Regions from separate parts of the Homo sapiens genome. Here region 1 is linked to region 2. A link means that fine-mapping ties the variant in region 2 to the expression of a gene that starts in the linked region. Tissue or cell type: skeletal muscle. Region 2 holds a variant in brackets; the other region holds the start of a gene. All regions are shown on one strand. Distances are between the middles of the regions.

Evidence for each region. PIP is the estimated chance that this variant, and not a neighbour inherited with it, causes the effect.
Region 1: GPLD1 starts here. The variant in region 2 is fine-mapped to the expression of GPLD1 in skeletal muscle (GTEx, PIP 0.97).

The regions. Positions count from the first base shown.
Region 1 is chr6:24,486,105-24,491,857 of GRCh38, forward strand. It overlaps GPLD1 (glycosylphosphatidylinositol specific phospholipase D1), which reads right to left and starts at 3,474. Exons shown (of 25, transcript NM_001503.4): 1 at 3,311-3,474; 2 at 1-26. The coding sequence starts at 3,407.
Region 2 is chr6:24,435,255-24,441,007 of GRCh38, forward strand. GPLD1 (glycosylphosphatidylinositol specific phospholipase D1) reads right to left here. Exons shown (of 25, transcript NM_001503.4): 21 at 1,859-2,035; 22 at 1,322-1,482. Among named protein-coding and RNA genes, the nearest start is that of MRS2, 35 kb to the left of the region's middle. The variant C/A (reference allele first, on the strand shown) is at 2,670.

The sequences.
Region 1 (5,753 bases), 51 kb after region 2:
CTGAAGAAACTCCAGAGCTCTGTGTCCTGAGAGAAATAAATACATAAATCAATTAAGTTCAACTATTACTGAAAACATAACTTAGGCGAGATGATTTTAAAAGAAAAATACACAATTTGTGGTTATAACTGTCAAGGACGCAGGAAATGAAATGAGTTTGCACTCACTGGCAATTTTCATTAGGTATAGGCTTGTGCAGTATTTCTATTGTTATAGTACAAAGCAAGTTTAGATGGTGATTTAAAGTTTCTGCTTAACTATTAAATAACTCTATGAGCTTTAGTGCTATTCAACCTCTCTAGACCTCAGTTCCCTCCTATGGAAAAGAGTTTAAAAAATACCCACCGTATAGGTTGGTTGAAATAATAAATGCTAAGTGACAAGCACAGTGGCTGACACTTGGTAGGAGCTCAAGAAAAAGAAACTGCCAGACCACACATGGTGGCTCACACCTGTAATCCAAGAACTTTGGGAGGCCGAGGAGGGCGGATCACCTGAGGTCAGGAATTCAAGACCAGCCTGATCAACATGGAGAAACCCCGTCTCTACTAAAAATACAAAAAATTAGCCAGGCATGGTGGCGCATGCCTGTAATCCCAGCTACTTGGGAGGCTGAGGCAGGGGAATCACTTGAACCCAGGAGGCAGAGGTTGTAGTGAGCCGAGACCACGCCACTGCACTCCAGCCTGGGCAACAGAGCGAGGCTCTGTCTCAAAAAAAAAAAGAAACTGTCATCATATTTTGCTTCAGTACTGAGGCAGACAAACCTAAGTACAAAATACAATATAACACCTAACCTATGGACTGAACCAATGATCCTCAAAAGTTTTTCATCATTGGACCAGAAGGACAAAATCATCTCAGAAAGCTACCAACTACACCCCACACCCACCCACAGCCTGAATCTCCCAAGAATCAATAAGAGGACTAACATTCCCTGGGAAGTGACATTCAAAGGTGATACCTTATTTCTGTTGTGAATCACCTCCAATTTTTAAAATTCATATAACAAAAAACTATTGCCACTACTATAAGCATTAATATCATAAAAGTCACAACCCACAAATACAAATAACCTGTGTACAGGATTCCAGTGATTTACGCTGAATGAAGCCATTTCTAATTAACTCACTCAGATAATGCTGACCTTCCACTCAGGCCCCTTTATAAGAAATGAAAAAGTGAACCAAAATATTTATAAAATCATCTAATTTATTAGTAAATAAATGATGGAGTTTTGGTCTTCTTCTATGTAAAAAAATTCTCAGAATCCGTGCAGATTCTATTTCAGGAGATGCCTTCAATTATGTTCACATAAATATTATTCTTTAAATGTCCATTAGGACCTTTGTTTGGTACTTAATGAAGAAGGGCAAGCAATTATCTGGTTTTATTAAAATTTCAGATGCAATCTGTCTTGTAAATTTTTAAACACTAAGGATTAAAAATGGAGTATTTCCATTTATATTTGTTCCTCATCAGCTTACTCTGTAGTTTTGGCAATTTCAACTTCACAGAACATAGAACTGCAAGACACTTTAGAATTCTTTAAGAAGTTCAACCCCCTCATTTTATAGAATTGAGAGGTAGGTAAAAAGTGAATTGCTCAGAATCACACATCTACTTTACTGGATGGCTGGAACTAGAACCTAAGTCTGATCCTCTTTTCCATTGTTTCCTGACTCCCTTCTAGCAGTACATTTTTAATGGAAAGAACGCCGGACCAGCTGTCAGGACATGTAATTCTAGGCCAGGCCACTGAAAACTTAGCTGTAAAACTGTCTAGTATCAGTTTCTTCATCTGTAAAAGAAGAGAACTGGACTCGGTGACTTCTAGTGTCCTTTCAGATAGTCAAATTCTGTGATAACAGGTTCTTGCCCATCGTAGCTCAGTATATATGTCTATTTTGCACTGATAAATTTTCATTTTTTGCCTATAATCTTATTATTCTTTGAAACTTCTGGAGGTGGTACAACTATAAAATTCTGTTATAATTTTTATCTAAATTAAAGAAAACTCAGGCCAGGCGCGATGGCTCACGCCTGTAATCCCAGCACTTTGGGAGGCCGAGGCAGGCGGATCGCAAGGTCAGGAGATCGAGATCATCCTGGCTAACATGGTGAAACCCCATCTCTACTAAAAAAAAATACAAAAAAATTAGCCAGGCGTGGTGGCGGGCACCTGTAGTCCCAGCTACTCGGGAGGTTGAGGCAGGAGAATGGTGTGAACCCAGGAGGCGGAGCTTGCAGTGAGCCGAGATTGCGCCACTGCACTCCAGCATGGCGGACAGAGCGAGACTCCGTCTCAAAAAAAAAAAAAAGAAAACTCAGAACATCAGGTATATCTGAAATTAATCTGAAAATTGCTGTAGAATGTTATCACAGCTAATTCTATTACAAATTGACTCACGTTTTCCATGCGTTAAAACATGTTACAAATACACTTCATACAAGAACCAAATCCTTTTGCTAAGAAAGATCTTAAGTGTTCTCAGCCCATATGCAAAAAACATGGTAGCTATGTGGGGGGGGCGGATGTGTTAATTAGCTTGATTGTGCTAATCATTTCACAAGGCATACATATATCAACACATCATGTTGTATATCTTAAATTTATACAATTTTTGTCAATTATACATCAATAAAGCTAGAAAAATAAAAATTTTAAATAACTCTTTGTGGTGCCATCTCCCTATATCCAGGATGACTCTGCCCTTGCCCCTAAGGTCGGTGGCACTGGCTTGCTGTACCCTTCTGCTCTCCAACTCCTGCCATCTTCCTGGCACCGTGCATGTGGATAACTAAACTCCCTTACTTTCTTGACCTTCCTGAAGCCAAGCACTTTTACAGCAATTTGACTCAGGGACCCACTCCCATGGCCACATATGGCTCTTTACATATACTTGGAAATGCCTGTCCTTGGACATGTAAAAACAACAAAAGTACATTTCTCACTCCTGCCATATTCCACCCATCTTGTTCCTCTCCCATTCTGTCAGTTCTGCTGCCACGTTGCAACCTCTCGTTCACTGAGCCTCTCACTATTTCCCCACCCAGAGAAACACACAGGGGTCCCATGACCAATGGGGCATCAGCTCTCTTTCTTATTTGCCCCTTAACTGAAGTCATGCTGCCAATCCCTATCCCTGGATGACTGCAATCACCGGCTTCTCCTCCCTGCTGTCAGGCCACTCAGCTCAGTGCCCAGGGGAAACTGTATCAATCCACGAGCGGGATTTTCAGTCTCTTCCTTAATGTCTTTGACAGATGTATTGTCCTCTCAACAACATAACAAGACACCAGTACTTACCTATTTCTACGTGTGTTGAAAGGCCACACGGTGAACCTCTATGGCAGAGAGAACCCAACATGATCAGCAGGCCAGGCCACAACCTGAAAGCAGACATGATCTCATTGCCCACCGGCTTCTCTGGTGACGTGGGAATGCTCAGAGCTGCAGCAGCACTGGGACTCCAAAATCCAGGTGCAGACCCACCGCTTCTCTCTAAGCAGGTCACTGACCGAGGAAACCAAGCCTCATTTCAAAATAATATCGTTTTCCAATGAAGTCAACTGTCCAACTACTGTTTAGCTTCACCAGAACAGCAAACAAACTCTGTGCTCCTGGGGGGTGGGGTTGGGAGGATAAACTGAAATCTGAAAAGCCTTAGGCCAGAAGCACTGCATCTTCTGACCGAGGTTTTTTCTGGATTTCATTTTAACATGAAATTTGTGTAGAGATGCAAGCAAAGTTGTCTCCAGATATTTTTTGCTTTCTATAAAAAGGCTCACCTGTGCAGATAGTCAACATATTAGACCACCTCACCTTACAAGGGTGGATCTCTCATGCATCCTTTCTACACATTTATCAGGCTGTCCTGCTTCCTCCGCCTCCCAAGCCACAAGTGCTGGGAAAGTTTTATGGTAATCAGCTGGAACTGGCTTCCTTTTCAGTATTTGGCAACAGATACTGACACTTGTATGGGATTACACAAGAGCAGCCACTCCTGGTCTCTCTACCTCTGGCTGTTCTAATAGGGCTTATCCAGAGCCTGTTGCAAGGTCAGATTCCTGCAGCTGAAGCAAAGATGTCAATTCCACTTGGGAGGTGGAAGGAAGGGGGCAGATTTAGGGCCAAGAAACAGGGTTTGGAAAATGTTAAGCTCACGATATATTATCAGGTACCCACTTACACTTCATCCATGGGAAAAATTAAGCTCTTCATGAAACTGATGGTAATCTTAAAACACAAATTATGCATATTTTACATTAAAAGCAAGAGATGGGCTCCTAAAAGAGTGGGAGGAAATAGTATTCACTTCAGGTTTGCCAAATGAAAGGATGAATAGAAAGTGGGATGATTTGGCTGGGCGTGGCGGCCCACACCTGTAATCCCAGCACTCTGGGAGGCTGAGGCTGGTGGATCACCTGAGGTCAGGAGTTTGAGACCAGCGTGATCAACATAGTGAAGACCCCGTCTCTACTAAAAATACAAAAATTAGCCAGGTGTGGTGGCACGTGACTGTAGTCCCAGCTACTGGGGAGGCTGAGGTGGGAGGATCTCTTGAACCCAGGAGGTGGAGATTGCGGTGAGCCGAGATTGCACCACTGCACTCTAGCCTGGGTGACAGAGCAAGACCCTGTCTCAAAAAAAAAAAAAGAAAAGAAAAAAAGAAAGTGGAATGATTTGACAACAGTTGTCGCCCCAACAGTTTCCCCTGTAAGCTTAACACAGCCATGTGCACAGCCCCAAGGAAAGAAATCCCGCAGCTACCCCCAGACCTGAGGGGCAGTAGGCCCAGCTACTCCTGATTAGTCCAGAGGCCATATGCCTACGTGTTTTGTTTGGCTAACAGGATGTTTTATAAACTTAAATCAAGTTTATGAACTTTTTCTAAATGAGAAAATTCACGTAGAAATCTAGATTTCTGGCTCTCTTAAAAACAAAAGAACTGGCATCATGAACTGACGCTCCCATGTGACACGACAACCAGCTGCAGCCAAAGAGCCAGCTGCCCCCTGATAGAGCATGTCCTGCTCCTCCAGTCCCCACCATCCATGCAATGTGTGCAGGTTTCCACACCCCTTCTGGCCACCAGAGGCCTTTGAGTTTGCCTCCCTGTCACTCTGGGCCTTCTACAGACTGTGCGTGAGGGAGTCACAATTATTAATTGGGACTTTGGATATTGTCTCTCAGAACATCCAAGAGCAGTCAATCAATGGTTACAGGGGAAAAAAATACTGCTAGAAAAGATATCTAACCATATATAATACAACAAACCCATCCAAAAAGCACCAAAGAAATGGGTTCAGAACAGGTGTGGTGGCTCACGCCTATAATCCCAGCACTTTAGGAGGCCAAGGCGGGCAGATGGCTTGAGGCCAGGAGTTCAAAACCAGCCTGTGCAACATGGCAAAATCCCGTCTCTACCAAGAAAAAAACAAAAACAAAAATTAGCCGGGCATGGTGGCATGCACTTATGGTCCAAGCTACTCAGGAGGCTGAGGCGGGAACATCGCCTGTACCTGGGAAGTGAAGGTTGCAGTGAGCTGAGATCACACCACTGCACTCCAGCCTGGGCAAGACCCCACCTCAAAAAAAAAAAAGGAATGGGTTCAGTTACCAAACAATACTAATCCCAAATGTCTCAATTTCTCATTATGCATTTTTTTGTATTTGAGATTCAGAATGACATAAACGTATAAATGTAATAAAATAAGAGGAAATTATTTGCTTAGTGTGATAGTTATGA
Region 2 (5,753 bases):
CCCGCCTCAGCCTCCCAAAGTGCTGGGATTACAGGCGTGAGCCACTGCGCCCGGCCAATTTCATAGCTTTTATGGGGATTAAATGATACATAGTTCTTAGCATATGCATACTAAATGCACAATAAATGGTAGTAATTAAATTCATAGGAAAAATACTAGCAGGATCCGCTCTAAAGGTAAGCAGGTATTAGCTCTGCAGAGTGGAATTTTAGGTAGATAATTTTTAATTCTCTTTGTACATTTTTGTATTTTCTAAAATTTCCATAATAAACTTTCACTAATTTTGCAATTTAAAAAATAATTTTAAATTTTTTAAAATAGGTGGGGTACGGTGGCTCATGCCTGTTATCCCAGCACTTTGGGCTGTAATCCCAGCCTGGCCGACATGGTGAAACCCTGTCTCTACTAAAAATACAAAAAATTAGCCAGGCGTGGTGGTGCATGCCTGTAGTCCCAGCTATTCGGGAGGCTGAAGCAGGAAAATGGCTTGAACCTGGGAGGAGGAGGTTGCAGTGAGCCGAGACCGTGCCACTGCACTCCAGCCTGGGCAATAGAGCCAGACGCTGTCTCAAAAAAAAAAAAAAAAAAAAAAAGTTAAATAATGGCCAAATGCTTTAGGCCCAGGAAATGTAACTTAAGGAAACTCACCCAAAAAAGGAATAAACAAAGAAATGAAACAAAAAGCAAAAGAGAGGACGTTTTAATGAAACTCCAGTGGCTGGCCGAGCATGGTGGCTCATGCCTGTAATCCCAGCACTTTGTGAGGCCAGGTAGAAGAACTGCTTGAGCCCAAGAGTTCAATACCAGCCTGGGCAACATAGTGAGGCCCCATCTCTACAAATAATAAAAAGATTAGCCGGGTGTGGTGGCACATGCCTGTAGTCCTAGCTACTCGGGAGGCTGAGACAAGAGAATCACCTGAGCCCAGGAGTTTGAGGCTGCAGTGGGCCATGATCACACCACTGCACTCCAGCCTGGGCAATGGAACAGGAACCCGTCTCTATTTTAAAAAGAGAAACTCCAATGGCCATGGCCTGTTTTCTTTCTTCTGTGCTGTGGGTGCCTAACCAAGCAGTGGCAGGCTGTGTGACCAGGGACCTACATAACACCAAGTCCAGTGGGACTTTAGCTCTGGGCACAAATGTTGCAGAACTGTAAGAACTGCAGGCAGCTGGGGCCCACAAAACATGGACAGATGATGGTGTCCTGACCCTAGGAGGTATGAATTCAGGTAAGCACTTTATAGTGGACATGAGTTAACAAGGAATCAGCAATTAGTGATCCTTTCCCAATAAGTTATAGAATTTTGTAGAACACTTACCTTTTCTTCTGGACATGGAGTTATCCATGATTTGCATTTGCCAGTCATGTCACCAAGGGTGGTCTCTTTGCCATTATATACATATACTCGGCCGTCTTCTCCCCCAATCAGTCCAGAGGTTACATCTGCTATCCTCAGGGGGGCTGCCATGATGATTTCATCTGAAAACAATAAAAACCGACAGAAGGAAGTATTTGACTCCTCACTGTCATCTTTTCCTTGTTCCGCTACTGGATCCTAACCCAACCTCTTACAAATAATATTAGTATCTCCTTTAGTCGGCTGTGATTTCATCCTGGCAAAGGCTTTTGTTTCCTACTTCATTCATCAATAGCAATTACTACAGGTGATTCTCATATTACCAGCTTCAAGAAGTGCAACTCCCTCTCTGGTCTTGCCTCATTCAAGATCTGTCTAAAGGTCCTTGGGCCACTGGGCTGTCAATTATAAGGGCAGAGCCCAGATGACCCAATTAGGGGACCCACCCCCTGGGCAAAGGGACTCAATTCTTGTCAAAGGGTCCTGTTCCTTTCTTACCTAAGCCATCATCATCCAGGTCACTCAAGTGCAGAACGCCACCAAATCGGGAGAAGCGGCGGTCTCCGCTGAAGGTGCTGAGCAGCAGAGGCTGCGCGTCAGATGTGAGTGCGTACATGCGAGTGGCTCCGCCTTGGTGTAGGGTCACGGTCAGGAATGCCACCTTAGACACGTCATCTGAAACGAACCACAGTTCCTGCTGGCCTCACAGAAAGGAAGGCATTACAGAACACGGAATAGCACCCCATCCTCAAGTGACACTGATCACTCGGGATCCTACAGGACAGTCGGTTTCGGAGCTGGTCATCTCCGGCAGTCAGGGAGGTACAACCAGCTTGGGCACCAAGGCACAAACACCAGAGAGCTTCAGTGATTTCCCTCCAGGCAGGTATTCTTTTTTCCAGTCTTATCCCCATAATACAGTCTCCACACAGCCACCTTTTTATTTTCTCGTATCACAAACTAGGTCACCCCCATGACTGACACATCCAAACGCAAGTGGACTCTGGATGGAGTCCAAACTCTTCACAAGGCCTTACAGAATCTGACTCCCACTTGGGGATCTAGCGCCATTAACCTTTTCACCCACACTTCACCAAAATGAACTTAAACCACAGCCCAATCTATGTCTTAAATTTGGGCCTTTGGACATGATGTGCTCTCTGCCTGGAATAGAGGCATATGCTCCGCGTGCTCCCCTGTCCACATCCCTCTGCTGGCTACTCCTGTCACCCTGCAGAATTTGGCTCAGGTGTCCCCTCCTCTGGGAAGCCTTTCCTAATCTCGCTGGTCTAGAGAAGAGGCCGCTTCC[C/A]TGTGCTCCCATACATAATAACACCGAGTCCAGTGGGACTTTAGCTCTGGGCACAAACGCTACAGAACTGCAAGAACTGCAGACAGCTGGGGCCCACAAAACATGGGCAAGTGATTGTGTCCTGACCCCAGGACCTCTGAGTTCAGGTAAGCATTTTACAGGGGACATGAGCTGTGCCCAGTGCCTTCTGAATACCCACGGCAGGGCAGCATCGCTCTGCATTCACTTCTGTGTCTCCTGCATCAGGCGCCCATTCCACAAGAAATGCGGTCACGTCTCTGTCTCTCTATCCACTGTACCTAGCATGGTGCTTGGTTCTGTACAAGTATTCAATAAAGTGTTTTTTGAATTAATGAATTTTGAACAAACTCAAAGCTAGTTGTTGGAATTTCGCTGTAAACTTTATTATTTGGAACACAGCTTTGATTTCAGAAATATAAATGGCACCTGTGGGTTGATGGGGCTAGTGGCCCTCTGAGAAGTTTGCCGTATGCTGGCAAAGTGTCAGTGCGTGGATACAATCTCACGTCAGCGTCCACTGAGTTTTGTGTGTAAAACTGAGCTAATCTGACCTGTTTTTTCGGACAAACTTGTGCCTTGTTTATGGGAAACTGTCCACTAGAAGCCACTGAGGGCTCAAAGCAGAGTCGGCAACAACAGTCAGATATAACAGCTAGAAAACAGTAGGAAATAAGAAAGAGTATTTTAAAAGCTCAGCAATCTGGAGCTTTCTGATACAGGGCAAACAACATGACCTAACACAATGTCTCCTAAGAGAACAATGTGCCAGCACAACAGTTAATATTCAGAGTGAAAGCCCAAAATATCAAGAAAAGTTGAAATAAGAGAAAATCTTCATTCCTTTTTCTTTTTTTATTATTGAGATGGAGTCTCACTCTGTCACCCAGGCTGGAGTACAGCGGCGTGATCTCGGCTCACTGCAACCTCCGCTTCCTGGGTTCAAGCGATTCTCCTGCCTCAGCCTCCCGAGTAGCTGGGACTACAGGCACGCGCCACCACGCCTAATTTTTTGTATTTTTAGTAGAGACAGGGTTTCACCGTGTTAGCCAGGATGGTCTTGATCTCCTGACCTCGTGATCTGCCTGCCTCAGTCTCCCAAAAGTGCTGGGATTACAGGTGCAAGCCACCAAGCCCAGCCACATTCCCTTTCTTTTCGTGCCTCCTAAAGGAACCATGAGCTCCCTGGAGCGCCCAGGAATCCAGTAACACTTCCAGCTCTCTGTCTACTCCCTGCTTCAGTCCTTCCATGGCAAGAGGATACCTGAGGCTTCTCCCTCTGGCTCTGCCGCCCACAGGATGAACACTGGCCCCAGTGCATGTGGGAGAATCTCAGAGAAGTCACCCCAAGGTCTAGCTTTCGGAGCAAGAATTAGAAAGCCTGAATAGGGCTGCCCATTGAGACTGTGTTCTCTAATCCAACTATGTCAGCTCTTCAAAAGTACATATTTTGATATCCCTCTGAATGATTCATGAATCTATTTCAGAAATGATTTGAAATGCACAAGGATGAGGAAGAATTGTAATTAATCAATACTCCCAAATCTCTAACACGCATCACAGTCTGTTAAAGAAGAGAAGCATATAATTTAAAATAATTTCATCAAAGTGTTTTTTTAATTCTTCAGAATTAAAACAGAAGAATCTAGACACTTGGAAATTTCAGCCATTCAAAACACCTCACCTTCTCAATCATGCAAATTAAACAATGGATTATCATACACATTTAGACAAGGAGAAAAAACTCAAGGTAATGTTGTAGGCATTTCTATATTATTTCAGTACTGAAAATAATTCTGAAGAACTTTGGCTTTTAAAAGGGCTACATGCAGAGGCCTTTATGAATTCCCAAATTCTAGAATGCTACTATAACACAGAATTCCTTCTGTAATGCTTATACCTTCTAGTTAACATAGAATTCCTTCTGTAATGCTTAAACCCTCTGATTAAGGACCATTATCTTTTAGACCTCCATATTGCCTTAATTTCTGCCACGAGCACTAGTCCCTAGGGTTGTGTTTGGGATGCAGGGGTGGTGGGTATTTTTTAAATACACACACAAGTGTTTTACTTCTCATGTGGAACTTTTCTTCCAGTGGAGGGAGCAGAAAACAAAAGAGCTATTGTGAAACACAGGTGCATCTCACCAACTCTACTCTCTTGAAAACCACAGGAAAGAGGATATCATCTTGTAATGTGGTTCATATTTGTGTCTCAGAAAAACTATAAACTTGCCAGGCATGATGGCTCATGCCTATAATCCCAGCATTTGGGAGGCTGAGGCAGGAGGATCACTTCAGCTCATGAGTTCAAGACCAGCCTGGGAAATGCAGTGAGACCCCATCACTACAAAAAGTAGGGTGTGGTGGCATGTGCCTGTAGTCTGACCTACTCAAGAGGCTTGAGGCGGCAGGATCGCTTGACCTCAGGTGTTCAAGGTAACAGTGAGCTGTGATCACACCATTGAACTCCAGCCTGGGCAACAGAGCAAGACCCTATGGCTTAAAAAGAAAAAGAAAAATTATCAACTGTAAGTTACTTAATGTCACCAGCTTTCAGGATTACTGCAAAAGTCAAAACTATGAAGATGTCAAGAAGATCTTTTATATTTGATCATTATCAAAAGTGTAAAAAATACTCAAAAAAAAAAAAAAAAGAAGCATAATCCAGGTGTTGTGGCACATGCCTGTGGTCCCGGCTACTTGTGAACCTGAGATGGGAGGATCACTTGAGCCCAGAAGTTCATGGCCAGCCTCGGCAACATAGCAAGACTCCAACTATTAAAAAAAAAAAAAAAAGCATAAAGAAGAAAATGTATATACTATATATATTTCTTTCTGGAAAGTGAGATAGGTAGGTAGGTAGGCAGATATCTATAAACACACATTTTAAACAAAATGGAGATTTTGTGGATTATAAAATTTTAAATCTGATTCTTTTCACATTTAGGCTATTTCTAGCTTTTTACTACTATAAACAATACAGCCATCCCTCAGTATCCACGAAGGATTGGTTCCAGGGCCTCTCACAGATACCAAAATCCACGGATGTTCAAGCCCCTGATAT